Linked DNA regions of Homo sapiens: region 1 is linked to region 2. A link means that fine-mapping ties the variant in region 2 to the expression of a gene that starts in the linked region. Tissue or cell type: visceral fat. Region 2 holds a variant in brackets; the other region holds the start of a gene. All regions are shown on one strand. Distances are between the middles of the regions. Region 1 holds the start of TF (transferrin). Region 2 overlaps TF (transferrin).

Region 1 (15,363 bases), 24 kb after region 2:
AGACATTCCGGGTTTATTTCTTATCATTACACTGTTACTTCAGGTTATGTTCCTTTTTGACTTTGTGCTTCTGTAAGCCCTCATCTTTACATCAACAGGTCCCTTGAAATATTATAGCTGCCTTCTTACTAGATCTATAATTTATTTTCTTTTTATGTAAATCCTTAAAGTGAGCCCAACCATCTTTTATTTAGACACTTAAACACATAGTTTTACTCCTTTTTTGTTTTAAATGTCTTTAATCAAAATGATTTTTCCAGAAGCCCTTGCCAGTTCTCTATGAAGATTTCTTATTGATCAAATTACAAAGCAGGCCAGGTATAGTGGCTCATACCTTGTACTTCCAGCACTTTGGGAAGCCTAGGCAAGTGGATCACCTGAGGTTAGGAGTTCGAGACCAGCCTAGCCAATATGGTGAAACACTGTCTCTACCAAAACAAACAAACAAAAATTAGCTGGGCTTGGTGGCACATGCCTGTAATACCAGCCACTTGGGAAGCTGAGGCAGGAGAATCGCTTGAACCTGGGATGCAGAGGTTGCAGTGAGCCGAGATTGTACCACTGCACTCTAGCCTAGGTGACAGAGCAAGACTCTCAAAAAAAAAAAAAAAAATTACAAAGCAAAAGCTATAGTTCCATGAACTTTGTTGTGTTACAATCAAGTAATAAGACAATAGTATTTCTAAATGAAATAAAATATGTTGTAAGACAAACTATATCAGCAGTCTCGCTCTTGTCCCTCAGGCTTGAGTGCAATGGCTCAATCTCGGCTCACTGTAACCTCTGCCTCCAGGGTTCAAACGATTCTCCTGCCTCTGCCTCCCAAGTAGCTGGGATTAAGGCGCCTGCCATCACACCCGGCTAATTTTTGTATTTTTTTTAGTAGAGATGGGGTTTCACCATGTTGGCCAGGCTGGTCTCAAACTCCTGACCTCAGGTGATCCACCCGCCTCGGCCTCCCAAAGTGCTGGGATTACAGGCGTGAGCCACCGCACCCAGCCAATTTTAACCATTTTCAAGTGTACATTTTAGTGGCATTAAGTACATGCATTCACGTTGTTTTATAGCCATCACATCTATCCATCTCCAGAAACTGAAACTCTTTACACATTAAACAATTACCTCCTATTTCTCCCCCACTCCAGCCCCTGGTAGTCATTATGCTACTTTCTGTTTCTATAAATTTGACTATTCTAGATACTTCATAAAAGTGGAACTTTGGGAGGCCGAGACGGGCGGATCACGAGGTCAGGAGATCGAGACCATACTGGCTAACACGGTGAAACCCCGTCTCTACTAAAAATACAAAAATTAGCCGGGCATGGTGGCGCGCGCCTGTAGTCCCAGCTACACGGGAGGCTGAGGCAGGAGAATGGCGTGAACCCGGGAGGCGGAGCTTGCAGTGAGTCGAGATCGCGCCACTGCACTCCAGCCTGGGCGACAGAGCGAAACTCCGTCTCAAAAAAAAAAAAAAAAAAAAAGTGGAATCTTACAATATTTGTCCTTTTGTATCTAGCTTGCTTCACTTATGTTTTCAAGGTTCATCTCAGTGTAGCATATATCAGAGTTTCATTTATTTTTAAGGCTAAAAATATTTCATCATTTGTGTTTACCACATTTTATTTATCTATTCACTCATCAATGGATATTTGGGTTGTAAAACATATTTTTAATATACCACAATACAAAACAAAATTAACAGACATCATGGGCCTTTCTGTTCCACAACAACTAGACCTTATATATGAAACACACTTCGTGGTTTTGTTTAATCTGCAAACACCTTCCCTTCCCCAGTCCTCACATTGTTGAATAAAAATGAAGCAAACAGGGTGCAGCACACCAACATGGCACATGTGTACATATGTAACAAACCTGCATGTTGTGCACTTGTACCCTAGAACTTAAAGTATAATAAAATATATATATATTTTTTAAAAAATGAAGCAAACAAACGAGAGCTTTGCCCATTGCAGTGGGGTTGGGAGAGTGGTCAGGAACCTGGTCTTTCTTTGCCAAGACACCAAGAAATCACTGGTGCCTCGGGGGCTCAGGGAGCCAAAGAGCTAAGGCCTAAAACACAGCGTCCAGCCCTAGAGCTGCAGGGTTCCCAGGGGAACCTGCGCCAGCTGGGAGGGACAGGATTATAATCAAGCAAGCTCTCACAAGTCAAAATAACCAAACCCAGAAGAGGGAAAGCTACAGAGAGAAGGCTGGAGGGAAGCCAAGGGGAAGCCAGCAGAAAGACACGGAAAACCCCAGCGCGGGGATTGAGGGAAGCCAGGCTGCATCTGGATGTTTCTTCCACCTTTTCCCTTCGGCTAACCTACTGCTTGCTTTGTGCTGAGAACTGTAGAATTTCCCACACTTGACACATCTGTCCAAACCTCTGCACTAAGAGACCTGACCAGACTCTGGCATGGCTCCTAGCAGAACAAATCTGTGTCCCTAGGATGGCCCGGTTCCCCTTAAAGTGCTTGCCTGAGAAAACTCAGTGCTGCCAGGAAAATGTACCTGTTTCTTCTACTCAACACACAACTGATGATAGGCCCCTGACCTCCCTTTCCAAGAGAATTTACTAAAAAGGACTTAAAACTGTGAATATGTATCTCTTGAAACTCACAAGCATCTCTCTCAAGGACTGAGAGCCATTCCTTTGCAACACAATCATCAGGATGGATAGAGTGTCTGTCTCGCAGTCTCTGCGGGAGAATAGAGTCCTAATCGAGAGAACTGCCAGCTATCAGACACAGCTGGCCTCCTCACATTTACACTGACCAGCCCTTTCTACCTTTTTACTTCTCTGACTCTACAGAGCCCTGCGTTCTCCCCTCCCTCATTCTCCCTTTAAAATGCTCACATCACCACTGCACAAATCAGAATGGAGCCTAGCTCTTTCCCCCACTGTCAGCAGTTACTGAATGAAACCTATTGTCACTGCCTAAACTAATATCTGGCTGTGCTTATCTTTGACAGCTCCCATCACCCTGGCCTCCCACTAGCAACTTAAATAAGCCCACTCTGCTCTGCCTCAGGCCCTTTGCATATGCTCTTGTTTGCTGCCTGGTGTATTTTACACTGGAGCCCACCCAGGCTCAGTCCTTCATTACATCTCTCTCAGAGAGATGGTCTCTGACCACCCAGGACAAAGCAGGTTTTTCTGTGAGTCCCTGTCAGAACACTCTCCTTTTTCCCTCCATTGTACATCCCCACATTTTGGAATTAGTAGTTTACTTATTCGTGTGTTTTTCTGCTCTCCTGACTAGCCCATGAGCTCCCTGAGGGTAAGGACCAATGTGTTTAATTCACCACTGCAGCCCCATTGCCCAGCACAGGATCTGACATGTACAGATGGGCAGGGGCAACGTTGAAAGAATGAAGAGCATTTTTGTAGACCTAAGAACAAAAAGATCAGCTGTCACCTGCAATCAGGACACTTTACTCTTCCCCCTGCATGCATCACTCATCTTCCCAGTTGTGTATCAAAAGCTGCCAAAGAAGGTTATATAATAATTTTGATAGTGGGCATTCTTATTTATTTATTTATTTTGAGATGGAGCCTCACTCTGTCACCTAGGCTGGAGTGCAGTGGCAGGATCTTGGCTCACTGCAACCTCTGCCTCCCCGGTTCAAGTGATTCTCCTGCCTCAGCCTCCCAAGTAGCTGGGATTACAGGCATGCACCACCATGCCCAGCTAATTTTTATATTTTTTAGTAGAGATGGGGTTTCGCCATGTTGGCCAGGCTGGTCTCGAACTCCTGACCTCAGGTGATCCACCTGCCTCAGCCTCCCAAAGTGCTAGGATTTCAGGCATGAGCCACCGCGCCCAGCCTGATAGCAGGCATTCTTATATTTTCGCCAAGTTCAGAGAACCTAGGGTCTCAAAACAGTCACCCTTGCGTCTACTGTGTCTGGAAAGCAAAAGTTAATGTGCTTTTTGACTTTTGCTTTCCAGACACATTAAAGAAAACCTCCCCATTTCCACTTTTGAAGTGATTTTAGTAAGTCAAGGTTGACTGCCCCATATATCAGCCTCCTACCTGTGAGTAAAGAATTGTTCCAAAGTGACTGGAAACAGAGAAAGTATGGCTTTCTTCCACTCTCTTTTAGGCAGCAGCGACTTACCGCAATGGCCCTGATGCAATCAAGGTAGGAGGCTTTCTTCACACAAGCAACACTGGGACCATCGGATGGAATGACGCTTTTCATATGGTCGCGGAAACTCTGGCACTTAGTGGCCTCATGCTCCGACACTGCACACCATCTCACAGTTTTATCAGGGACAGCCAGACACAGCCCTGGGGGAGAGAGGCCAGAGGTGGAAGGGCCCACTCCCTATGCTGAGGGAGAGACAGCATCGCCCCTAGAAAGGCCTTGACAGCCACATCCCCTCAGTCCTGTCCTCCTCTCACTCCTGTCCATGAACACTACAGGGCACAAGTTCTACTGCATTCTGAGTCTGAGCCAATAGAAGGTTGCCCTAATGGCCTCCCAGTTTCCTACTGACCACCCTCTGCTGGCCAGAGGGGTGCAGGCATGGCCATCACCTCCCAGCTGGAGATGACAATCTGCTCCTCTGTATCCGCCTTGTCTCCTCCCATCACTGTCCTGGCCCCTGGCCCCCCATGGAACATAAGCCTCAGTATGCACAGGGCGTTTTCAGCTACCCCAACACATTGGCTTGCTACCTCAACTATGGAAAACCAGCGGGGGAGGAATTGCCATCTTTTTGAGAAGAGGGAGTGAGACTCAGAGAATGATGCCTTTTTTTTTTTTTAACCCAAGGTCACCCTGCTTGTCGTTGGCCAAGCCAGGCCTAGAATCTGGGTCTCCAGACTCTGGGTCTGCTACTCAGGGCACAAAAGAAGAAAACATTCTGAGTTACACCCCTTCTTGGCCAGTAGTTGAGGGTAAATTAACGAAAAGAATTAATTTGTCTGTAACTCTTGTCTGTTGCTCTCTGTTTAGGAAGAACTAAAAACTCCACAAATTCAACAGTCTCCCCTCTGTCTCCACTGAACTATCCCTCCATTTTCACCACACTTTTTGGCTGCCATTCACAAAAAAAGCTGAAGCCAGCCATGGGTAACTATTAAAATCCATGTGGTTGCAGAGACAGCATCCCTATCACATGAGCTTTTGCCCTGTCCCCAAGGCCCTCTGTCATCTCCACTCCTTGTGGGCCACCACAGCAAGGCTGACTCACTGGCTCTGAAGAAGATCCACAAAGCCTGTGGAGAGGAGGCCCACAGCTCTCCAGGATGCATGAGGAGGGGCCACCAGGGATGGCCACCCCAGCGACCCCCATTTTCCCTCTTGGCCCATGGGAAATCCTAGGAGGCAACATAAGCCTGTGGCAGCCCCTCCACAAAGCCCTGCCTCCAGAGTTCCCATAGGCGAGAATGTGTCCTCAGTGGAGCATTACCTTGCACAGCCTGTGAAGTGCTCTGTGCGGGGATAAAGGCAAGTAACGTGGGGTCCTCTCTCAAGGAATTGCTAGCTTATGGGGAGAGAAAACTAAACGTGGAAGCCCCAACAGTGTGACAAATGCCCCATGAATGGCAGGCAGAAGTTAGAGTATGAAGGGGGCCCCACCTCAGGAGGTCGGGGAGTGTGGCGTCAGCCACTGCCCCATAGCAGGATGTGTGCAACATCTGCCACTGGTACTCAGCATCTGCCACCTCGCTGACCCTCATTTGACCCTCCCAGGCAAGTGCTGTGATGACCCCCTCCCTGGTGAGGAGCCGGCCAGGACTTGGATCCAAGAAGTCTGGCTTCAAACCCCATGCTCTGACCGCTCGATGGCACCGCTTCCTTGGCAGGACATCTACAGCTCCCAGGGCACCCAGGGGACATCAGCCTCTGAAAGGGGAATGGTCAGACCCGGGAGGCCTTGAATGCCATGCTAAGGAGTTCGGACTTGACAAGAGGCAGCAGCAAAGGGTTTTGATAACCTGGTTAGACGTGCTCTGATTTATTGTATTTCACTGCTGCAAGATTTACTGGACAAAGAGGAGGAGGGGGAGAAGACAGTGAGTGCAGTGAAAGGTGTCTAGAAGCCCAAGCAAAGGCCAGGGGTGGGGCGTAGAGAGGCAATGGAAAGGCACCCAGACACCCAGGCTTCCAGCCTGAGCGCGGAGTGCATGCAGGCTGCGCGGTGGCCGCCCGGGTTGCAGGGAACGCGCGGGCCAGCGACTCTGCGGTGCTACCCCGTGCCCGCACTCACCCAGGACGGCGCAGACCAGCAGGGCTCCCACGGCGAGCCTCATCTTCCGGGTGCGGCGCTGAGCAGCGAGCACAGTCGGACTCGCTTCTGTGCAGCCTCCGGCGCCCCGCGTCCCTTTATTCCATTCCCGGCCTGGGCGGGCTGGGCGCAATCTTTGACCTCCCGTGTTTGTGCAGCCGGGTTGCCCAATCGCCCCTCTCCCAACCCCCCTTCCTTACTCGTCCCACTGATCACCTCATTTTCTGAGCTCTGGAGACGACCCGCGAGTGGAAGGAGTCCAGCACAGAAATGTTGATGGGAAGGGACATGAAGCACAATGCAGCCATTGTCATCGCGGCTCGCTCGGTGCCAGGAGCGGCTACGGCGGGCTGGGAGCCGGGGGGCTCTGCTCCTGACTCCAGGGCTGCAGAGCTGGTCCGTGCCACCAGTCCTATCTGCGCAGTCCACAGAGGAAGACTCCGAGGCTGGAGAGGGAAAAGAACTGCGCCCAGACCCCACACTAGAACTGCAGAATGACAGGCAAAGCCCCTTTTGGGGGAGGATGCAGGAGAAACAAGCTGGGCTCAAGGTCAAAGACAGACTCAGCACCTTTTGCTCCCCACCAGGTGTCCCTCGAAATCCTGCTCCTGGGCTCTCAAAGGTCCCCCACGGAGGAGCTGCTCCCTCTTCCTGCCCCGCTGAGCTCAGGCTCCTGGGCTGGAAAACTTCCCGCCCTCAAGCTTCCTGTGGGACACCTTAGACTAGGGACAGAGTCATAGGGGAAGATGAACTCCCTCCAACAAGAAGGTTCCAGGAACATGGTCAAGACACTGTGAGGCTCAGAACAAAGTGTCATCTTAGCACAAAGCAAGCGGCCCAGTGGACGGTGTGGCCTGTTCTTACAGCCTGGGGCCACCATGTCCCCCTCTAGTCGATGAGTCTCCTAACCAGTTTAATTACACATCCTTATCATGAAAAATATTGAACTTGTGCCTTCTATATGCTTATATTTTAACTAAAAAATGTGTACACTTCAATCATGCACAAGGAATAGAAATTTGTAAAAGGATGAGCTAAAGATGAAACTCATTTTCAAATGTCGTTTTGCTTATGCGGCCTTATACAGGATTATTATCTCAAGGCATAATATACTTGGGGAAAGGTCAAGATTCCTTCCACGAAGTGTAAATCCAGACTTCAGAGATTTTGCCAAAAGTTACTTCTTATCCAACCTGACCAGATGGTCATTCATTCTGTCTCATGTTTTAGTTGACCAAGCTCATATCAAGCCTAGTGGACACGTCAGGTCAGTCATTTGATTTTTGTTCACTTGTTTTTGTGTTGTCAGAATTGTCTCCTAATTCTAGTTTCTTTGTAAGAATCTTTTTAAGGCATGTGTGCATCTCGTGAAGGTTGGAGTTAAAGCCAGATTATCTAATCTGTACATCCGTTTAACTGGGCACATACAAACCACAAAGTATGGAAATAAAAATGCCAAAACAAAGGGCAGGGTCGGCACTCCCCTTTTCACCTTTAGCATTGTGAGGTGAACCCCATCTTCCCTTAGGACACCTGAAAGGCTCCATCTGTCATGACTGCAGACTCAGGTGGGAGATAGGGCCAATTCACACATTCAATATGAATGAATGATAATTTGTTAATCTTTTGCAATAACAATAAATATAACTGGAAGTTAGATTATGTTCTCCCACACTCCAAAAGATTATCTCATATGCAAAGGGGTTACATACCTCCCACTTTAGAGTCCACTACAGAAGCTTTCTGTTTACAGTGAGGACAGAAGTCAAGTCTGGCTTTCCCAACACATCAGCCTCACCAGCGAGGGAGAGTGACCACTGCTGCCCTGTCTTACTCCCCCCTTGCCCGTCCACGGGCCCCTTGTGCTTGAGCCATAGGGAAAGAAGACTGTTAGCATGAGGGCCATATTCCTACTGCCCCTGCAGCAGGCTCTAGGCAGTGGTCTGGATTCATTTGGAGACCTTGAGGTAAGGATGTGAGATGAGCAGGAAAAGTCAGGGGCAAGGCTAACTGGAAGGCACCCAGCAGAGCAGCATGCACACATACAGCTGATGCATGGACAGGCCCTGTAGTAAGCTTGCAGGGTCTGCCAGAGAGCAGGAAGTGCAGTTACGAAAGGTTGAGCCCATGCCACAAACTCAGGGAAGCTCAACGCAGGGCATGGAAAGAAGATGGTCAGTGATTCTCCTTTTCTGGAGCCCATCTACATTCGTAGACTAAGCCCCGCTGAGGCCAGTCCTCCAGCCACAGGCCCATAGCCTAGCCAGAGCCCCTCAGCAGGGAGCAACTACCTACTGGCCAGGCTGAGTCCTCTCCAGAGCAGCCAGCTCTATGCCCTGTCCTCAGAAGGGTCCTTTGAGTCCAAGCCCAAGACAGGTGCTGGGAAGGAAATATACAGCCTCATGGGATATGAAGGAAGCTCAGACAAGACATAGAGAACTGGTGCTCCCACGTCATCTACACACACCTAGATGGAGAGGCCAGGGCCTTGGCTTTTGCTCAAGAGGACAACAGCAGAGCTTCGTGCTTGCCATTCCTTGGATGGGGTAGGCAGGGGTGAGGCCAGCTTTGGGGTGTACATGTGTGCATGGCCCTAGCTGTATGGGGTGCCTATGCCTGTATATGTCTATAGGAGCATGTGAAGGTAAGAGGTTAACATTACAGCGCTCCATGTCCATGACACTTGTACCTGTGCTCTCATTTATATTCTTTAATTCTATACCAGAGATGTTCTGGAGTTGGAGAATCACTGTCCCTTTTAATAGCTTAATGATGGCTGAGATTTACTGGGAGCTTCACTGAGCACTTACCATACCCCTCTGACTTTGGTGCTTTAGCATCTGTATCTTACAGATGAGACAAGGAAACTGAGGACAAGAGAGGATGATATCTTGTTCAAGGTCAGCTGCAAAGTCAGAATACAAAAGAAGGCAGTCTGGTTCCAGAGTGTACACATCCACCAGGGACACTGCCTCTCCCAGGAAACCAGGACATGCAGGGGCCAAGGAGCTCATCTGGGGTCACACCGAGAGAGGGACAGACATGAGACTCCCAGCCTTGCCATTTCTCCAAAAGCACACAGCCCCCAGGGCTTTGCCAGCACAGGGGCTGGTCAGTCTGGGAGAGGTCTGAGTACCAACTGCAGATCCTTAGACATGGACTGGCTTGATTATGCTCAGCTGGAAGAAAATATCATGTTTTTATCCCCTTGTATGTGTCAGGCACTGTCCTGGGGCAAGATCATTGGGGCAGCCATGCAAGATAAGATCAGTACCTCCATTTATCACATGTGGTCATTACAGTCAAATGATGGGTCCTTATTCATGGAGCTCTGAGACCTGAACTCAAACTTCCTAAATCTTGCCCTTCTCCAGACCACAGCTGCCTTCTTGATATTGACCTTCTCTTTATTTATTTAGTGGGGGAGGAAAGAGAGGGAGGGAGGTGAGAGAGAAAGAGAAAGAGAAAGAGATTGATAGAGGACATAAAGGAAGCTTCCAGTTCTAGACCAACCCAAGCATGAGCCAAATCTTTCACCGCAAACAGGGCAAAACTCTCAAATTTCAACCACGAGTTGGCCCTTAAAGAAATAGCTGCGCTTGTGTGTACGTGCAGGAAAGCTGGAAAAGCTGACCAGCAGGAGGTGGGTAAGAAAGCAGTGGGCCTCTGAACCAATATTTGTTGTTTCCAAATGTTGCCCAGTTGACACAGAAGCAAAGCAAACAAAGAGCCTCTGTCTGTTTTGAGCAGTTCCTCCTGTCCCCCACCCAGTGTCCTCTGCCTGACACCAGAGACTTCTCTAAGTCTGGGTCATCCTTGAGAAGCAGCAGCCTGGCAGCCTGAGAACCGACATTCACGAAATCAGTCACCCTGCAAGCCCGCTGGGTCGGGCTGTATGGCTAGGGGGTTGGGGACTGGGCAGGGTACTTTTAGGAAAATGCCAGGCATTTTGAAATGCCACATGACACCACTGCTCACTCGCTCTCACTCTCTCTCTCTTTCTCTCTCTCTCTCTCCTTCTCTTTCCCTTTCTCTATCTCTGTTCTACCTCTCAGAAGTCCTTGGACAATGAAGATTCTCAAGGTTTCCATTCTTTTCACAGGGGAGTCTGCAAAAATACCTGTCTCATGAAGAATAGTCCAGGGCCAGGTGGAATGAATTCCATCAAACATTTAAGAATTACAGCGTGGGGGTGGTGGCTCATGCCTGTAATCCTAGGGCTTTGGAAGCCTGAGGCAGGAGGATTGCTTGAGCTCACGAGTTCAAGACCAGCCTGGGCAATATAGTGAGAACTCGTCTCTACAAAAAATTTAAATCAGCTGGACACAGTGGCATGCACCTGTAGTGCCAGCTACCCAAGAGGCTAAGGTAAGAGGATTGCTTGAGCCCAGGAGTTCAAGGCTGCAGTGAACCAAGATCACAACACTGCATTCCAGCCTGGGCAACAAAGTGAGACCCTGTCTCTAAATAAAGAAAAAGGATTAAACCAATATATTCCTCCAGGAACAGAAAAGTAGGAACACTCCTTAACTAATGTTTTGAGGACAGTATGTATACTTAGAAAGGAAAAACTAACAAAGACATCATGACAAAGATAAAAAAATAACTTCTATGAACTCAGATGCAAAATTTCTACACAAAAGATTAGCAAATAGAATCTAGCAAAATGTAAAAAAGATTAATAAATAATTACCAAATTGGGTTTATTCCAGGAATGTAAGCTATCTTTTCAAGTATCAATCACTGTAATATATCATATTAGTGGAATAATAAAGGAAAACGGTATGACCCTATCACTCAGTATGGGAACATCATTTCATAAAATTCAATATCCATTCATAACAAAACCTCTTAGCAAATTTATTCGACAAACCTTTCTCAGTCTGATATCAAGTATTAGTGTACCATAAAAATCTACAGAAATCATACTTAATGTGGCATGCTGAATAAAGCTTTTCTGTTGAGATCAGTAATAAGACCAGAATGTTTACTATTATCATTTCTGGTCATCCTTTTTACGGGAGGCCCTTGCTAGTTTAGTCAGGCAAGAAAAAGAAATAGTAAGTAAAAGGATTGAAAAGGAAAAAAATAAATTCTCATCTTTATGCATAATAAATTGTATGTATATAAAATTCTGAAGAAACTAGAGTATACCTTAGAATAAATGAGTTAAAGCTGGGCATGGTGGCTCATGTCTATAATCACAGAACTTTGGGAGGCTGAAGCAGGCAGCATCACCTGAGGTCAGGAGTTTGAGACCAGCATGGCCAACATAGCAAAACCCCTTCTCTACTAAAAATACAGAAATTAGCTAGGTGTGGTGGTGCACACCTGTAGTCTCAGCTACTCAGGAGGCTGAGGTGGGGGAATTGCTTGAATCTGGGAGGCAGAGGTTGCAGTGACCTGAGATTGTGCCACTACACTCCAGCCTGGGTGACAGAGTGAGACCCTGTCTCAAAAAAAAAAAAAAAAAAAAAAATAGAGCTGGATCAAGGTAGGTAAACACACCAAAGTCAATTGTATTTCTATACTCAAATTAAAAAAAAAAAAAAAAACATGAAAAATGCTACCTAAGGTAACATAAGAAAAACAAATGCCTAGGATTAAATCTATCAAAAGACATCTAAAACTTTTATGTACCAGACTTTAAATTAAGAAACTCAAAGTAAATGGAAAACTATATCTTGAACAGGGAGTGGAAGACTTGATATTGTAAAAATTACAATTCTCCTTAAATTGATGTAGAAATTCAATGTACTCCCAATCAAATTCCAAATGTTTTTTCATGTAAATTAACAACATAATTCTAAAGTTTGTAAAAGAAAATGCAAAAGAGGCTGGGCACGGTGGCTCATGCCTGTAATACCAGCATTTTGGGAAGCCAAGGCGGGAGGATCACTTAAGGTCAGGAGTTCGAGACCAGCTTGGCCAAAATGGTGAAACCCCGTGTATACTAAAAATACAAAAATTAGCCGGGCATGGTAGCATGTACCTGTAGTCCTACCTACTCGGGAGGCTGAGGCATGAGAATCGAGAATCACTTAAACCCAGGAGGCAGAGGTTGCAGTGAGCTGAGATCATGCCACATTAGGTATTTCTCCTAATGCTATCCCTCCCTTAGCCCCCAACCCCCTGAGAGGCCCCAGTGTGTGATGTTCCCCTCCCTGTGTCCATGTATTCTCATTGTTCAACTCCCACTTATGAGTGAGAACATGTGGTATTTGGTTTTCTGTTCCTGTGTTACTTTGCTGAGAATGATGGTTTTCACCTTCATCCACACCCCTGCAAAGGACATGAACTCATCCTTTTTTATGGCTGCATAGTATTCCATCGTGTATATGTGCCACATGTTATTTATCCAGTCTATCATTGATGGGCATTTGGGTTGGTTCCAAGTCTTTGCTATTGTGAATAGTGCCACAATAAACATACATGTGCTTGTATCTTTATAGTAGAATGATTTATAATCCTTTGGGTATATACCCAGTAATGGGATTGCTGGGTCAAATGGTATTTCTGGTTCTAGATCCTTGAGGAATTGCCACACTGTCTTCCACAAAGGTTGAACTAATTTACACTCCCACCAACAGTGTAAAAGCATTCCTATTTCTCCACATCCTCTCCAGCATCTGTTGTTTCCTGACTTTTTAATGATTGCCATTCTAACTGGCATGAGATGGTATCTCATTGTGGTTTTGATTTGCATTTCTCTAATGACCAGTGATGATGAGCTTTTTCCCTTATGTTTGTTGGCTGCCTAAATGTCTTCTTTTGTGACATATCCTTTGCCCACTTTTTGATGGTTGTTCATATCCTTTGCCCACTTTTTGATAGGGTTTTTTTTTTCTTGTAAATTTGTTTATGTTCCCTGTAGATTCTGGATATTAGCCCTTTGTCGGAGGGATAGACTGTAAAAATTTTCTCCCATTCTGTAGGTTGCCTGTTCACTCTGATGATAGCTTCTTTTGCTGTGCAGAAGCTCTTTATTTTAATTAGATCCCATTTGTCAATTTTGGCTTTTGTCGCCATTGCTTTTGGTGTTTTAGACATGAAGTCTTTGCCCATGCCTATGTCCTGAATGGTATTGCCTAGGTTTTCTTCTAGAGTTTTTATGGTTTTAGGTCTTATGTTTAAGTCTTTAATCCATCTTGAGTTAATTTTTGTATATGGTGTAAGGAAGGGGTCCAGTTTCAGTTTTCTACATATGGCTAGCCTGTTTTCCTAGCACCATTTATTAAATGCGGAATCCTTTCCCCATTGCTTGTTTTTGTCAGGTTTGTCAAAGATCAGATGGTTGTAGATGTGTGGCGTTATTTTTTGAGGCCTCTGTTCTGTTCCATTGGTCTATATATCTGTTTTGGTACCAGTGCCCTGCTGTTTTGGTTACTGTAGCCTTGTAGTATAGTTTGAAGTCAGGTAGTGTGATGCCTCCAGCTTTGTTCTTTTGGCTTAGGATTGTCTTGGCTATGCGGGCTCTTTTTTGGTTCCATATGAAATTTAAAGTAGTTTTTTCCAATTCTGTGAAGAAAGTTAATGGTAACTTGATGGGGATAGCATTGAATCTGTAAATTACTTTGGGCAGTATGGCCATTTTAACAATATTGATTCTTCCTATCCATGAGCATGGAATGTTTTTCCATTTGTTTGTGTCCTCTGTTATTTAGTTGAGCAGTGGTTTGTAGTTCTCCTTGAAGAGGTCCTTCACATCCCTTGTAAGTTGTATTCCTAGGTATTTTATTCTCTTTGTAGCAATTGTGAATGGGAGTCCACTCATGATTTGGTGCTCTGTTTGTCTGTTATTGGTGTATAGGAATGCTTGTGATTTTTGCACATTGATTTTGTATCCTGAGACTTTGCTGAAGTTGCTTATCAGCTTAAGGAGATTTTGGACTGAGACGATGGGGTTTTCGGAATATACAATCACGTCATCTGCAAACAGAGAGAATTTGACTTCCTCTCTTCCTATTTGAATACCCTTTATTTCTTTCTCTTGCCTGATTGCCCTGACGAGAACTTTCAATACTATGTTGAATAGGAGTGGGAAGAGAGGGCATCCTTGTCTTGTGCCGGTTTTCAAAGGGAATGCTTCCAGCTTTTGCCTATTCAGTATGATATTGGCTGTAGGTTTGTCATAAATAGCTTTTATTATTTTGAGATATGTTCCATCAATACCTAGTTTATTGCGAGTTTTTAGCATGAAAGGGTGTTGAATTTTGTTGAAGGCCTTTCCTGCATCTATTGAGATAATCATGTGGTTTTTGTCATTGGTTCTGTTTATGTGATGGATGATGTTTATTGATTTGAGTATGTTGAACCAGTCTTGCATCCCAGGGATGAAGCCAACTTGATCGTGGTGGATAAACTTTTTGATGTGCTGCTGGATTCAGTTTGCCAGTATTTTATTGAAGATTTTCTCATTGATGTTCATCAGGGATATTGACCTGAAATTTTCTTTTTTTGTTGTGTCTCTGCCAGGTTTTGGTATCAGGATGATGCTGGCCTCATAAAATGAGTTGGGGGGAGTCCCTCTTTTTCTATGGTTTGGAATAGTTTCAGAAGGAATGGTACCAGCTCTTCTTTGTACCTCTGGTAGAATTCAGTTGTGAATCTTTCTGGTCCTGGGCTATTTTTTCTTGGTAGGCTATTAATTACTGCTTCTATTTCAGAACTTGTTATTGGTCTATGCAAGGATTTGACTTCTGCCTGGTTTAGTCTTGGGAGGGTGTATGTGTCCAGGAATTTATCCATTTCTTCTAAATTTTCTAGTTTATTTTCATAGAGGTGTTTATAGTATTCTCTGATGGTTGTTTGTATTTCTGTGGGATCAGTGGTGATATCCCCTTTATCATTTTTTATTGTGTCTATTTGACTCTTCTCTCTTTTCTTATTAGTCTGGCTAGCGGTCCATTTTGTTAATCTTTTCAAAAAACCAGCTCCTGGATTCATTGATTTTTTTAAGGGTTTTTTTTTGTGTGTCTCTACCTCCCACAGCTCTGCTCTGATCTTAGTTATTTCTTGTCTTCTTCTAGCTTTTGAATGTGTTTGCTGTTGCTTCTCTAGTTCTTTTAATTGTGATGTTAGAGTGTCAATTTTAGATCTTTCCTGCTTTCTCCTGTGG
Region 2 (15,363 bases):
GGGAAAAAGGGAAGCTACGGAGTATGTCTTGGGAATTTTCCACCTCCTTTATCTGCCATTTATCCACTTAGGGCCCCAGCTGCATGCTTTCATGATGCCCCCAAAATCATCTATAGGGTCCCTGGTCCCACCTTCCTCTGATAAGTCCCTCCCACCCACACCCATGCCTGCCTACTCTGACCTCTCTTCCCCACTTCATTGCCCTTCACTGGGGGCTGCTTATAGGAAATGAGAGGACAATAACATGTCCCTTCAGATGTTATTGTCAAAGAAGATGTTAAATGTGAACCCTCCCAGAGGAGTGGCAGAGGTAGTTCTTAAAAGTTCATGTTTGACTGCATTTTGAATCCTTTCTTGGGCAAGCCACTCAGCTTCTCCAGATCTCCAAAGGTTGTAAGTGAAATGATGACTGCAAAATGTTGAACTTTCCATATAGCAGCTAGGAAATGTATGTTAAATGCTTATTATTGTCATGTACCTTAAAAGGACTTCAAATATACTCTTATTTTTTTTAAAAAAAGGTAATGGTGAATCAACAGCAGGCAGCTATGCCCAAAAGGAAGGTGATGTGTGTGTGTGGAGGGGCCTTTAGGATTAGAATACTCAGGCAGCCCCTGTCTTCAACAAGGCTGGCCCTGAGTGGTTGTTCCCCCAGAGGGCAGGCTCTCCGAGGGCAAGGGTCCTGTGTTTTTCAGACTGTTGAGAACAGTGCTCAGTCTGCCTAGGCAAGAGGAACAGAAATCCACTCTTCATGACTCGTATCAACAAGCGCTGGGAAACAGGAGCTGTCTTCTTCATTTTCGGGAAGGACAGGAGTAGGGGAAATGAGGGTACCCCTGAACAAGGTTAGGGGGAGCAGAAAGGCAGATTCCTAGTCCCAAGAGTACATGGATCAGATCTAATCACCAGTGACCAGGAGCTAGAAGCAGAGCTGGGCCTGAGAGGTCTAGTTCCATAATTACACAGCTAACATATTTTGAGCACGTCCTATAGGAAATGGAATTTTCCTATGCCGTTTGGGTGCATGTCTTCACTTAATACTCATGTTAACTGAGAAGTAGGTAAAAATATTATTATTACAATTTTATATATGAGGAAGCTGAGGCATAGAGAGGTTATGTAACATACCCAAGATGGCACAACTAGGAAGCTGTGGAGCTGTGATTTGAACCCTGATACTCTAGTCCACAATGCATGGCATGAAATGCACAATGCATGGAATTCTAGTTTTCAAAAAGAAAGTGCTGGAGTCATGGCTGCACTTTGTTGTAAACTCCCCCCGAATAGCCTATGGCCATCTAGGAAGAAAAGGTGGGAGGACCTGGCTGGTCCATACCTGCTGTTGACGTAATATCTTGTGGACGCAAGCTTCCTTATCTTTCCGTGTGACCACAGCGTGATTCGGGGCTCTGGCCAGGTGGCAGTTCGCATACTCCTCCACAGGTTTCCTGGTACCATCAAGGCACAGCAACTCATAGTCTTTTTCATTCAGATTCTTAGCCCATGGATCAGGGTTTTTTCCTAGGGACAGGAAGAAGGTGGTTCAGCTGATGGCTTTGGTCAAGGTGCCCCGCTGGGGAGATGGAACTGACTCAGTGGTGTGTAGAGAACCTGGGCCTTCTCGCCAGCAGAAGTGCCCACACTGGGGTTACAGTGATGTGGACAGGAAGAGACACCCATGTGGTCTACAAGGTGATGCCAGACTCACAGTGACCAGGAATGATTATTGACCATCCCCTTCCAACCTTCCCTACCCAGCCAGGTGAGAATGAACTACATTCTGCAGATGCTGTTCAAAAAGATCTTCAATTCCACTAAATTCCAATTCCTTCTGTACCTCTTGCTCCAACAGAGGAAGAATGTGACGCTCTAAGCCAGGTTGATCAATTTCTGTGCTGTAACACATGGCATCTCCAAACAAAAGAACTTTTCCTCAGAGAACACCTTTGGAATCTGCACCAGAATTTTAAATCTGACTCCCTTGTTCCAGTTCTAAATGAGAATGTGCACACACCTGTGTGATACAGGTCTGTATCCCATCTCGGCCCCTTTGCCTCTTCTTTTCTGTATTGTCTCTGAAAAAAAAAAAAAACTCACCCATTCTTAGGGTTTCAGCTCCTTCCTCCTGAGCCACTTTGCAAATATGTTTTGCTAATTTTTATTTCTCTCCCATAATTCAGAATTGCAACCTTTTTAAAAATGTATTTTTCATTTAATTTTGTTTCTTTAACCGAATAACTAATACATGAGATCACACTCATAAATTTTTGAATATCTCTCTATATTAACTAAAAGCCTCCTTTCCTATACTCTCCAAATCTCACTCAGTCTTATAGTGCTAGTCTTTAATATCACATTTGCGAGTTTCCATCCACGGCTCATTATATGTATTTTTCTACGTGTGTATATGGATTTCACATGTTTCTAATTTTGTTTAGTGTTAGATCTTGACAAATGTAAAACTCTGTAGCTTTTTTTTCAACTGTTTACATACCTTATAGATTCTTCTTGTCAGTACATACAAATCAAGCTCGTTCTTCTTAACTACTGTATTATATTTCATAGTGTGGCTATAATAGTATCTTTAAACCATTCCTCTTTTAATAGGCATCTGAGGTGTTTACAATTTTTTGCCACTAAAGTAGCGTTAAAATGAGTGTTACTGGCATATAATTGTGCTTACATAGAAGTGGAATAGTTAGTTCAAAGGGTATATGTATTTTTATTTTATTTTATGTTATTTTATTCATTTATCTATGATACTATGTTCTCAGCCCTCTCCAAGGCACAATCTTATTGGAGGGGAAAATAACACACATACCAAAACAAAAAATTCAGGGCAGGGATAATAATATTTTATATTTTGTAAAACACTCTAGATGCTGTGTGAGCTCAAACCAGGGCTTTGAGAACAAATGAATTAAGAAGCTGGCTGGAGGAGGCAAGATTTCAGTTGTCTCTTATAGTGTGTGTAGGATGAGAGGAGGAGAAAGGAATGCCTCTCTGCGGGAGGAAAGGAGAGTGCAGGCGAGACTGGGGGCAGGTGTGTGCCTGGTGTTTCTAAGGGAGAGAGGAGACCGCCTCTGGAACCATCTCAGGCAGTAGGGTATGTGAGGCACTCAGGCAAGAGGAAAAGTGGGTTTGTGAGGACTTATGAATGGAAATTGATGTTAATGAATGAGCCAGAACCTAAAGGTAGAAAATTAAGAAAAATCAAATGGGAGGTGATTCAGTCTGGCTAGGAGGGCATCTAGAAGGGCATGTTAAAAATATGCTTTTTCAATAAAAATAATACACGTTTATTGGTGGAAATTTATAAAATGCCACGTAAGTATTGGGAAGAAAATTTTGAAGCATTTGTAATTTCATAGTCTACGCCTTCAAAATTGGTACATTTCTAACATTCTTTTTCCTACACACACCTATAATATGCACATACACACACACACACACACACACACACACACAAATTGTGATAAAAGAGCCCATGTGGGCTGAGCGCGGTGGGTCACACCTGTAATCCCAGCACTTTTGAGAGGCCGAGGTGGGCGGATCATGAGGCCAAGAGATGGAGACCATCCTGGCCAACATGGTGAAACCCCGTCTCTACTAAAAATACAAAAATTAGCTGGTCGTGGTGGTGCACGCCTGTAGTCCCAGCTACTTGGGAGGCTGAGGCAGGAGAATCACTTAAATCTGGGAGGCGGAGTTTGCAGTGAGCTGAGATCACATCACTGCACTCCAGCCTAGCAACAAAGTGAGACTCCATCTCAAAAAGAAAAAAAAGAAAAAAAAAAAGCCCACGTGGTTTTGTGTCTTCCTTCTTGTATATACCATAGCACTTAAGACAGATTTTGGAGGAGGGAGAGAGGGGGGCAAGAGTTGAAAAGCTACCTGTTGTGTGCTATGCTCACTACCTGGGTGACAGGTTCAATCATACCGCAAACCTCAGCATCATGCAGTATACCATGTAACAAACCTGCATATGTACCCTCAATCTAAAATATAAGTTGAAAAAGCAACAAATTAATAACAGAAGAAGGTAAGAAGGTGCAAAATATAAGTATGATGAATCAGACATGATGTGACTTACATTTAGTAATATTTATCAGGAATGTGATATTAAGTCAGGGGTATTAGACCAGTAGTTCCCAAACTTACAATACATCAAAATTACTTTGGCTCTTAAAAATCATGTTGTCTACCTTAAATACACACAAT[TATTTCA/A]AAATTTAGTTTGAAAAAAGACACGTTTTGAAGAAATAAGATATTGACTGACAGACTTAATCTAGGCCTGATGGGCAGGGAGTATAGCAGGATTCTCTATAAGGATAGAGGCTGGGAGAAGAGGAGGGAACGTTGACAGAAAGATGAGGACAGTTGAGTTGTATATGGATTGTATATATACAACTACAATATATGAGGACATCCATATACACACGTAAAAAAATACAATTGCAATGCCAATGTACTCTCTACATAAAAGTGACACCTTGGGAAATAGACTGGAATGGAATTGAGATTGGATGTCAGGCCTCCTATCTTAATTCTATGCAGGAGGGAAGAATTTTTGAGTCATTGCAAAGAGTAAGAGAGTCAAAGCTTAAAGAAGGGAGCTCTACTCAGAAAAGTACCAAAAGAAATCAAGGGTGGCAAAGAGCCAAGCTTAGGGTAACACTCTCTTAAAGGAAAAAGCAATAATACGAGGGAAGAAAGGAAAATTAGTCAACCCAATATTTCTGCAAACAAATTCTTAGCAACTGCTGTGTACTATGTGCTACACTAGGTTCTGGGAATATAAGATGAAGAAAAAGAGCTCAAAGAGTTTCTGTAGCCAAAGTGTATTACAGAGTGTGGTGAATTCAATCATAATGGCAATATGAACAGAGGAGTCTTCTTGTAGGACAGGGTATGCCATCTGGGAAGGCTTCCTGGAGGGGCTGGTGCTGAGCCGGTTCATTCTGGATGAGTTGCCCAGGAAAAGTGAGGAGTTGGGGAATGAACATGAGAGAAGGCAGGGAAGTATTCACAGCTTGAATTCCAGTGGGCTCTGCTAGCACTTAGTGATACTGAGGGGTCAGGTGTGGAGTGCTCAGTCTGGCCAATGTTTGTTTTGCTTTGTTTTGTTTGTTTTTATTAATATTATGGCTGTCCAACGTTCACCCACAAGTTAACACCCATTGATTCTTTTTTTTTTTTTTTTTTTTTTTGAGACGGAGTCTCGCTCTGTCGCCCAGGCCGGACTGCGGACTGCAGTGGCGCAATCTCGGCTCACTGCAAGCTCCGCTTCCCAGGTTCACGCCATTCTCCTGCCTCAGCCTCCCGAGTAGCTGGGACTACAGGCGCCCACCACCGCGCCCGGCTAATTTTTTGTATTTTTAGTAGAGACGGGGTTTCACCTTGTTGGCCAGGATGGTCTCGATCTCCTGACCTCATGATCCACCCGCCTCGGCCTCCCAAAGTTCTGGGATTACAGGCGTGAGCCACTGCGCCCGGCTTAACACCCATTGATTCTTGCTTGAATCAGTTATCAATATATTGGTTGCCAAGTGATAGTTTTCTAACTCTATCATTCCTTCCACATTGATTAGTTTTCCCTTCTTCATTTGTTTAATCAGTATTGCCTCATGCATTCTTATTTCTTTCAATGGGCTATTATCCCTTACTGCTATCATTATTTATTTTAATGCTCAAAATTCCCAGACTTGGCAACAGGAGATCCTTCAAATTGGTTCTTGTATGCTTTGAGTGTCCCATCACTGTTTGAGCACTTCAGTGTGTTGTTCTAGGCTCAGCATCTATTTTTCCTGCCCCAGCCCTGAAGTCAGCTATTTTTCCAAGGAGTTCTGGTTCCTTTTAGTAAAGAAGAGTACTTACAAGCCAATATCTTGGTGCTTACTCCTGCTGGTATGCCATTGCCTCTAGGCCTTCTCAATGGACACAACCCAGAAGTACAGTAAATAGCTATAAAAGGCATTACTGGGATAACTGACAACAGTTAAATGTGGACTGTGGACGTGACGAGTATTAAATCCACATAATGTAAAAGATCCTGATCTTGGTAATCATACTGTGGGTATGCAAGAGATTGTCTTATTCTTAGGAAATAGGCACTGAAGTATTTAGGGGAAAGGAGCACAAGGCTTGCAGCTGTGGGAGTGTGTGTTGGGGAGGATTTAGGGCCATTGGGGGCCCCATAATCCTGATCATTCTGCGCACTCAGGTGAACATGTCTCTCTTCACTGAGCAGACAGACTGAGAATCAGAGCTTTGAAGTCTGACAGTGTACATAATACTTCCACAAAGGCATCCCTGAATACAAGTGAATACCAGTGACCAGGATCTAGTGATCTAGGGGGACAGAGGAGCAGGTGCACTTACCCCCAGTGTTCTGTGGGACAGTCTGGTGTTTCACAAAGGCCACATCTCCCTTCTCAACCAGACACCTGCAGAGGTCCAGAAGTGGGAGAGAAAAAAAAAGGCGGTCAGAGTGACTTATCTGTCATTCAGGGGGCTACCTTATAGATTCAGGACAGCCATCTGAAAACAGCAACTGTAACTTCCATTCTAACAGTAAGCAATGTAAGGAATAAAGAGAACAAAAACAAAACACTCTGAATTGATTGTAGTTTTACAATCTCAGTTCCACATACTAAATCTTAATTTTTTGTACTGTTTCTCTGAGAGATGACATAATTTCCCTGACATCAACAAGGATAGTAGGGAATTGATTTTCAGTGAGGTGATGCCTCCCCCAGCATATGAATGAAAAACTCAGTTCCTTCAGGTTCTCATACAAGGCGAATGTCTAGGCAACATTTGTGAGAGACTGAAACTCCATCACAAATTGCAATTTGTGCTGTCCTTCATTCCTTTGAAAAAGAATTTTAACATTTATGGAGCATTTGCTATGTTGTGGGTTTTTTTGTTTTTGTTTTTGAGAAATGCAGAGAATATGGCAAAACATGGCATAAAGGCACCTGACTCTACTAACTCCCAGGCCACATATCTCTGGGTGTGGTAATGGGGGTTGTAACACAGCTCTGAGCTACAAGTCCCCAAGAAGTTTCAGAAAAGAAATAATAACAAAATAAACTCTGGTTAGTAGGGTTCTAATTTTAATTTTGACTGTCTTCCAGTCCTTTGAAAGGGCATACCACACAGATGATGAACTAGTGTGTACTTCAAAATCTACACAAGGCCCTCCTCAATGAGCCGAGTGGGTTGGACTTTTGGACAATGGACTGAACCCTGCTCTCCATGTACTTTAATCCCCTTGCTTCAAGGAAAAGAACCTGCCTATTACTGCATCGGTTCAAGAGTTTTGGGGGTAGCTAGCTGAGAAGACGGGGTACCTATTGTGCCACATATTGATTTAATTTTATTTTCTTTGGAGTTTGGAGTCTTTTTATCAGTCTGGTACATTTTACTTCATAGCTAAGTTTTATAAGACATGTTTAGAAAAAGAAGCCTTTATACACATTTATTTTAAGCATGTTTATACATACATGTTATTTGAGCCTTTTCTCATGACCTATAATTCTCAAACATATGTTATCACCAGAAAAAGACAAGGTACAAAAATGCAAAGGGGAACTCTATTTTAAGTCCCCCAAACTCTTCAATCTTTATGAAAACAACATGCTCTACTTTGTGAAATTAGAAACTTGGGGAATGTGAATTGTACTTAATCTAACTTACAAAGTGGCTCTAACTGGAAAATAGGAATGACCTTTGTTTTTTACATCATTACGGGGAAGCTCAGTTATAATACCATCATCATTGTGCAGTTCATGGATTCATGAACCACCAAATAACAGAAGGCCTAAAGCAGAATGGGTAGTTAAAAAGTAATAAGGTAGGGCCAGACGTGGCCCACGCCTGTGAGTACCAGCACTTTGGGAGGCCAAGACAGGAGGATTGCTTGAGCCCAGGAGTTTGAGACCAGCCTAGGCAACATGGCAAAACCCTGTCTCTACAAAAAAATACAAAAATTAGCTGGGTGTGATGGTGCATGCCTGTAATCCCAGCTACTAGGGAGGCTGAGGTGGGAGGATCGCTTGAGCTCAGCAGGTTGAGGCTGCAGTGAACCATGAGTGTGCCACTACACTCCAGCCTGGGCAACAGAGAGAGCTCCTGTCTCCAAAAAAAAAAAAAAAAAAAAAAAAATAGCAAGGTACACAGGTATCTCTATGAAAATGAATGATAGGCACTCCATAAAGTACAATTGTAGTTAGGAATTTAGGAATCATGTACTATTCTGTATTTCCAGATGAGTATTGTTCTGGATTATCCAGAGGTGCATGGAAAAGCTTGAGCCAAACTCTCCACTCAGTGTTTATTCAACTACAGTAGGGTATCATTGCCGAGGCACTAGTGACACTTGGGGCTGGATAATTGTTTGTTGTACCATGCTATCCTGTGCATTGTTGAATGTTTAGTGGCTTCTACGTGTTAGATGCTAGTAGCACTTCCTCCCCCACCCCAACATTGTCACAATAAAAAATATATGCAAACATTGCCAAATGTCCCGTGGGGGTCAAATCACCCGTTGACAACTGCTAAACTGTACCAAACACAAGTCTCTGCTGTCTTTGACAGCCATGTCAGCATCCTGGGGGAGTCTGGCTGCCCCTCCCCATGTGGCTCTATATCTGGTTGTGAAATATACTCTCTTAATACATGCCGCACTAATGGAATAGGAACCTAAGAATCTTACCTTAGTTCCTAAAAGAAATCTGGCCAGGGCTTGTATATTATTCTATTTGTTTCAGGGTTAAAAGACTCACCTGAAAGCGCCTGTGTAGCCGTAGTATCCCTCTTTGTTGTTGGGTTCACACAGGTTTAGGCCTGAGCCCATACACAGCTTACAGAGACTGGAGTCTTTCTTAGACCCAGGGGCACAACCTTCACTGAAAAATTCATCTGTGCAGAAGGACAAGAGGAAGTCAGCTTTTCCTGAGTCAATGCAAGCAGCTTTTATTTAAGAGATAACAGGGCTGCATGGCCCATAATAAGTAGAACATATTCATTAATTCTGTGACCAGCCACCACCAACCCAGGACTTGCCAGGCTATAGGCTTTAAAGGGGAACCTATTGAGATTGGGAAAAGGAGTTAATGACCATTACAATTCAGGGCAGAGGGGATTTATTTGAGCACAATAATGATGTCATCACTACGCTAAACAAAGAAGAGATGAAAAATGTCATGAAAGGGAACAGAAAAAGATGAAGACTGAAGGTCTTGCTTCCTGAGCTTGTGCCACCTGTTTTCAGATGTCCCCATTCCCTGCCATTCATTAGAAGAGCCTTTGCTACATCTCCAACCTCAGGAAAGGGATGGGGAATTTTCTTTGCAGCTCAGCTGCTCTCCTGTGGCCATAAAAGTGCTAGGAGGTTCAGGAGGGCAGAGGTAGTGCCTTTGTCAGTGGGGATCCTGAGTTTTCTGAATGTCACCTTGGCCACACTTTGCTTCATGTCTAAGTGGTGTCACAAAGCACCCTGGTACAGAGGCATACTCTCATCACCACTTCCCTGACCCCACAGGGTTTTCTGGGTTAATAACCAGATTTAGAGGCCTTTTCTTTTTTAAAGAGTTGCCCAAATTTGGAGGTGGCAGGGACAAAGTACTTAGGAAGCTAATGTAAATCAGAACCACTGGAAAACATCTGTCTGTAGGAGAACTTACACTTAAAAGTTTAAGCGGGGTAGAAATAAGCTCATACCTGGTGGTATTCAGAGGACATAGAAAATGAGGTGATTTCTACTGCTTAGAAGGGTCCTAGGAGCTGGGTAGGGACTTGGTGAGATTGCCAACACCATGAAGAGACCCGGGATCTCCCACACTCACATACCATACAAAACCTTGTGGCAGGGATTGCTACCTGTCTACCCAATATCTGTTTCTCCTTGTACTTTGTAACAAAAATCTGGTTTTATCTGGGGTAGGGACATTTCCAGATGAACGATTACATTTCTTTTTTACAGCTAGGTATGGTGATGTACCTAAGTTCTGGGCAATGAGAAGTTTGCTGAAATAACTGGTTAGACTTCCTAGAGAGCTCCTTTAAAAAGGTGGCATAAACTTCCATTTGCTGTAACCCCTTGGTGACTGGGGCTGCCTGGATCATGGATGCGATGGCAACCATGGGGTGACCTTGAAGATGGAAGTCTTATGCTCAGAATAGAGGAGCAGAAAGTGTGAAGGAGCCTGGGTTTCTCATGACCATACCAGCCATGCACTGCTCACCTCTGGTCTTTCTCCTGAGAGATAAATGTATATTCACTCATGCTAATATGTTCAACCTAAATGAACCGTCCCAACTCAGCAACCCAGTTCCAGTCCTTCCAGCCCTTGTTGCTATGTCCTTGAGGACAGCAAATTCTACTGTTCTTTGACCAAATTCTACTTCTCTAGAACCAGAGCCCACAGCACCTTATGCCACACTCCTCTTCCCTAAGGCAGGACCCTGCTTTCTGGCATGGCCCTCACCAGCCCTCCTTCCCAATATTCACTCACCAAATCTGCAGTGGTTGATCTTATTGTAGAGCAGGCCCATGGGGATGTTCCAGCCAGCGGTTCTGCCAACTGCCGTATGGCAGGACTTCTTGCCTTTCAGATTGTCCCAGGTGAGGTCAGAAGCTGATTTCTTCACCACTGCTATAGCAAAATACCCTACAAGAAAGACACCAGAAAAGGATGTATTAACACCTCTGGGGCTTCCAGAGTGTCTGCTTCCAATCAATTTCCCTAGGGAAGCAAAGATATCCTCAATCAGTCATTGTGTCTTGAGAGGATCTTCCCAGTATCTGACTGAGGGGAAGTACAAGGAACTCTGTCAGGAGAAGATTAATCTGAACTTTAAAAACAAAATATTGTGAAAACACCATCATTAGATCAATGGCTGGGTGTATAACCCTTCCCTAAGTGCATAAAGTCACTGAAGTTATAAGCCAGCAATTCACCATCCAATGAGTCCTATCAGAGGAATGGATACTGAAACAGCTAATGTAACCACAAACTTTCATAAATTAACATATGTTGAGATATAGTAGTAAAAGATCAATAAGCAAAAGAGAAAAAACTGAGCCAAACATTTTCTGATAAGGAGAATATAGTTTTATACCAAAATAAATATGCAAAATGGAAAATGTCAATATCAAGTCAGCTTCCATTTTCAGCAGCAAATATATACTGGTCCTTAAAATGGGAAATAGAACATCAACCTATGATTTCAGTTTGCCAGTTTAATTCAGATTACAGTTTCCAACAGAAAACAGAATCTTTATTATCCATAGAATAAGAATGGCTTTTTCTATATCTGCTGAAGGGCTTAGCTCCCCAAGTGATGGGGAGAGGCTGGGAGGTTATAATCAGTGGAAGTGGCAAGGACAGACTTGTACAGTAATGGCTGTCTGGAATGTGACCTGCAGGGGCCTGAGCATAGGGGGCCAGTGCTCACCTTGGTGTAAGACTTCCTGACTTGCTCCTGCTCTGTTTCTTCAGATGTACCCTTACCCAGAGCCCTGGGTGAGAAGCCAGGTTGGCCTGGGTTCCTGGACCCAGCCCTGGCTAGAAGGTCAGATAATTTTATGTTCCTTGATATCTGCCTGTGTGAGGCTCTCTATTGAGCCCTGTAAGGAATAAATAAGCAAAGTTCCTTGGTTGGTGCTTACTCTTATCTGAAAATGTGCAGGCCTCATGTCATGTCAGGTGAGGATCAGTGGGAAAGACCTGGATTTCCCTTCCTAGATGTATAATCCTAGACGATCTGTCTGTAAACTCCCTCAGCTTAGGGTCCACTTGTGTATCCTCAGAGGATGCCAAAACCTACCTTATAGCATTAAATGAAAAATCCTGTGTGCAAGCCATGGCAAGTGTAAAGGGATAACCATCATTATCCATTACTATCCTTCCATGATTCTCTCGCATTGTGAAAATTGGTCTCTTACAGCACCTTATATACTTGAATTTTAAATCTAACCAATTCCCCAAAACAATGGGAATTTATCTTTTAACTCCAGAGGTTACCAATTCAAACTCACCTGCCTCTGGTGTATCCTCACAATTATCGCTCTCTGCAGGAGAAAAGAAAATGAAAAAGGCATTAAACCCTGATTTATAGATTGGGAAACCATGCCTTTTTTTTATGCTGCAGCTAAGAATAAAGAAAGTCAGAGAAAATTATCTATACATGTCATCAATTCCCAACAAGTCCAGACTCTCTGGATCATGCAAGTCCATTTCACCTCCTGGCCTCTAGAATTTATCCACAAACTGCGAATGTCAAGTTTCCTGCTCTGTCTGCACTGAGACCACAGAGGCGTGCTAGCCAACTATATTTAAATCCTAGCAACAGGGCAGTGAGAGAAGTGTGAGTTTTGGAACCTGGAAGACTGCCAGAAATCCCAGCTGTCCTTTGCAATGGGGTCATCTTTAGTGAGGACTTCCCAGTGCAGAACTTTCATTTCCCATTTCTGGAATGTACTATAACTCCCAACCTTCAAGATGACTGTGGGGATTTGAGATGAAGGAGCCCAGAGCTTGCAAAGTAGGAGGTGCTCAGAGAGGGAAAGCTTTATGGCAGCTGTGGTATGAATCAGACTGTGATTTTTCCATCTCCTCTCTCCATGGCCCTGAGGGAAGAAAACACAGAGAGGTGCTCCCCACCACTTACTATTGTAGTTTTCTGCCAAGACAGGCACCAGACCACACTTGCCCGCTATGTAGACAAACCCTCCATCCAAGCTCATGGCATCAGCTTCTCCATTCTGCAAAGACACAGCAAATCACAGCAGATGAAAAGAGGCTGTTTCCTGTGCCACCCACTTTTCCAGCTGTTTCCTTGAAGCAGCCTTTCCAGCACATGAATGCCAGGGAGATAGCAGATGCTGATACTGAACCCCCAAAAGATCAGCCAGGCACACTCAGCAGAGAAAATCAAATGTACTCTCATTTTCACCCAACCATCATGAACTGATCATCAACTCCAGGTGCCTAGTTCAAGAGCAAAGACCCACATTCAGTCCTCTTGCCCTCTTGTAGGACACACTGTCCCAGAGACACTCCTACGACACATTTCTGACACCAAGAATTCTCACGTGCAGATGGATGAGTGGAGTCAGGGACTCGTGGCTGTGGCTGTGGAACACAGCACCTTCTGAAGGGGGGCTCTAGCCTCTAATGTCAGCCTCCTTGGCTGAGTGCTATTTCCGTGTTTGGTGCATACAACATGTTTAATGAATGAGTCAAATATTTTCAAATGTTCTAAATCTCAGCTCTAGTAAGCCCCAAATTTCAGAGATGCTTAGATTCAACAAGGTTTGTAAGATTTCCCTTTGGCCTGGCAATATACTTTCTAGTAATAAACCATAAAAGAACAATCAGATTGGTGGGCAACTATTTGGACAAAATGTGTAAGTGGGCAAAAATAACAGGTGTGATTTATAATAGCAAAAAGAAAATTAAACTAAATGCTCAATGACAGAGAAATAGCTAAATAAGTGGAAGCACATCCATGCTATGGAATAGATATCAGTCTTAAAATATCATTTTTTTCTTTAAAACGTAAGTATGGCTATATTTATTTCTCTTAATTCATGCAAGATAGTAATTACACATCAGCAAATATTATCCTCAATAATGATTTGATTCATAAGCATTTGAAATGTATGTAATTTCACATCAATAGCCTTGCATTTTTTTAATACTGTAAGTTAAAAAGCACCCCCCAACAGCCACTTTATATATTTTCCATAACTCCCTCTACACATCCAAACTTTAAACATAAACTGAATATATAGGTCATGTTTAGAAACTTGAGGTTTTAGAAATCTGCTTCCTCACTATGATTCAGAAAACTCCTTATACTGACAATACAGTCACAGGTTAGGTAAAGGTAGTTGTAGGAGGGGAAAAGGAAAAAGACAGACACAAGTTTGCTCTCCTACTATTTTACTAATCCTGTCTGTTGAAAATGGTGATGTCTTAAGAAGTAAAAATCTAGGTTGAATATGAAGAATGGAGTTTGCCTCACAGTTTGAAACATGCATTTCAAATAATTTCCTATTTGATTTGAGCTCACTGTAGCAAACTGATGCCAAAAGAGAAAAATCATTTCTTCCACACATTCGCTCAGAGTCTGCCTGGTAATGTGTATTAAATTCTTTGTGTTTTAGCTTGAAGGCACCTGTCACCAGACCAGTTTCAGGATTCATGGGTCAGGGCTCAAACCAATTTTTAATAGATTTTCAAACTTTTTCAGACACGCCCAAATAGCAGCTTCAGAAAGTACTTTACGTATGGTAGTCCCCTCTTATCCTCAAGGGATATGTTCCAAGACCCCCAGTCTTGGAACCTGAAACCCTATACAATGTTTATTTCCTATACATACAAGCCTATGATAAAGTTTATAAATTAGGCACAGTAAGAGATTAACAACAACAATAATAAAACAATTATAACATACTATAATAAAAGTTATGTTAATGTGCTCTCTCTCTCTCTCAAAATATCTTAACATTTTTGGACCACGGTTGACTGTAGGTATAACCCAAGAAAGCGAAACCTCACATAAAGGGGGACTACTGCACCTCATCTTCTGTTTCACAACTGTTAGAGAGCTACTCTCAAGTTCCTGTAAGTCCTTTCTTTCAAGTTAGTTCTGTTAGTTCCTTTTGATTTGGCACAACAAATCCAATGACATAAGAACAATTAACTGTTTGCAAATGCACAAACGTCATCTATTACTGGGAGATTCTTCAGAGTTGGCTCTACTTTCCCAAGGGAAACATAGTCTCCTGCCTGTAGTTTTACAAGGTCCTTTTTATGATCGATCATCTGTAAACAACCATCAAACTCTTCAGCATCTCTAGGACATAATCACTTCTGTCCATTTCCATCTTCAAATAAATCAGCTTTTGTTTCTGCTTCATTTCTGTAGCATCCCATTGTCACATTTTAGCCACCGATAAGAATTCTACCTCTGGGATGTGGTTTTTCAGTATTAAAGTATCCACCTTCCTCCCAGTTCTTTAATTTAATTTCACAGCAAACTAATGGGACTCTCACTTCTGCCAGTCTTGTAATCCACACATCTGTAATTGTTCCAGCCCCTGTAGGTTCAGTGAGTCTGTATTCATGAACTTGCTGCGTGTTGCAGAAAGTGGAGCACTTTCATACAATAAAAGCTGAATATTTCCACCTAGCTAGCTTCACAGTTTCCAGAAAACAAAGCTGTCACACAATCCAGTACTATGCTCTTTTGAAATGTGTTCCATTTTATAATTATAAGCCAGAATAAACAGATTGTGTTGAAGACTACTGATTTCATACACTTAATTCATGACATTTTGGTAGATCT

The links. PIP is the estimated chance that this variant, and not a neighbour inherited with it, causes the effect.
Region 1: it holds the start of TF, and the variant in region 2 is fine-mapped to the expression of TF in visceral fat (GTEx, PIP 0.97).

What each region holds. Positions count from the first base shown.
Region 1 is chr3:133,737,348-133,752,710 of GRCh38, reverse strand. TF (transferrin) reads right to left here and starts at 6,318. Exons shown (of 17, transcript NM_001063.4): 1 at 6,228-6,318; 2 at 4,127-4,299. The coding sequence starts at 6,270.
Region 2 is chr3:133,761,591-133,776,953 of GRCh38, reverse strand. TF (transferrin) reads right to left here. Exons shown (of 17, transcript NM_001063.4): 10 at 12,679-12,772; 11 at 12,047-12,079; 12 at 10,521-10,676; 13 at 8,790-8,925; 14 at 6,382-6,446; 15 at 1,337-1,521. It also overlaps the pseudogene ACSL3P1. Among named protein-coding and RNA genes, the nearest start is that of TF, 23 kb to the right of the region's middle. The variant TATTTCA/A (reference allele first, on the strand shown) is at 4,222.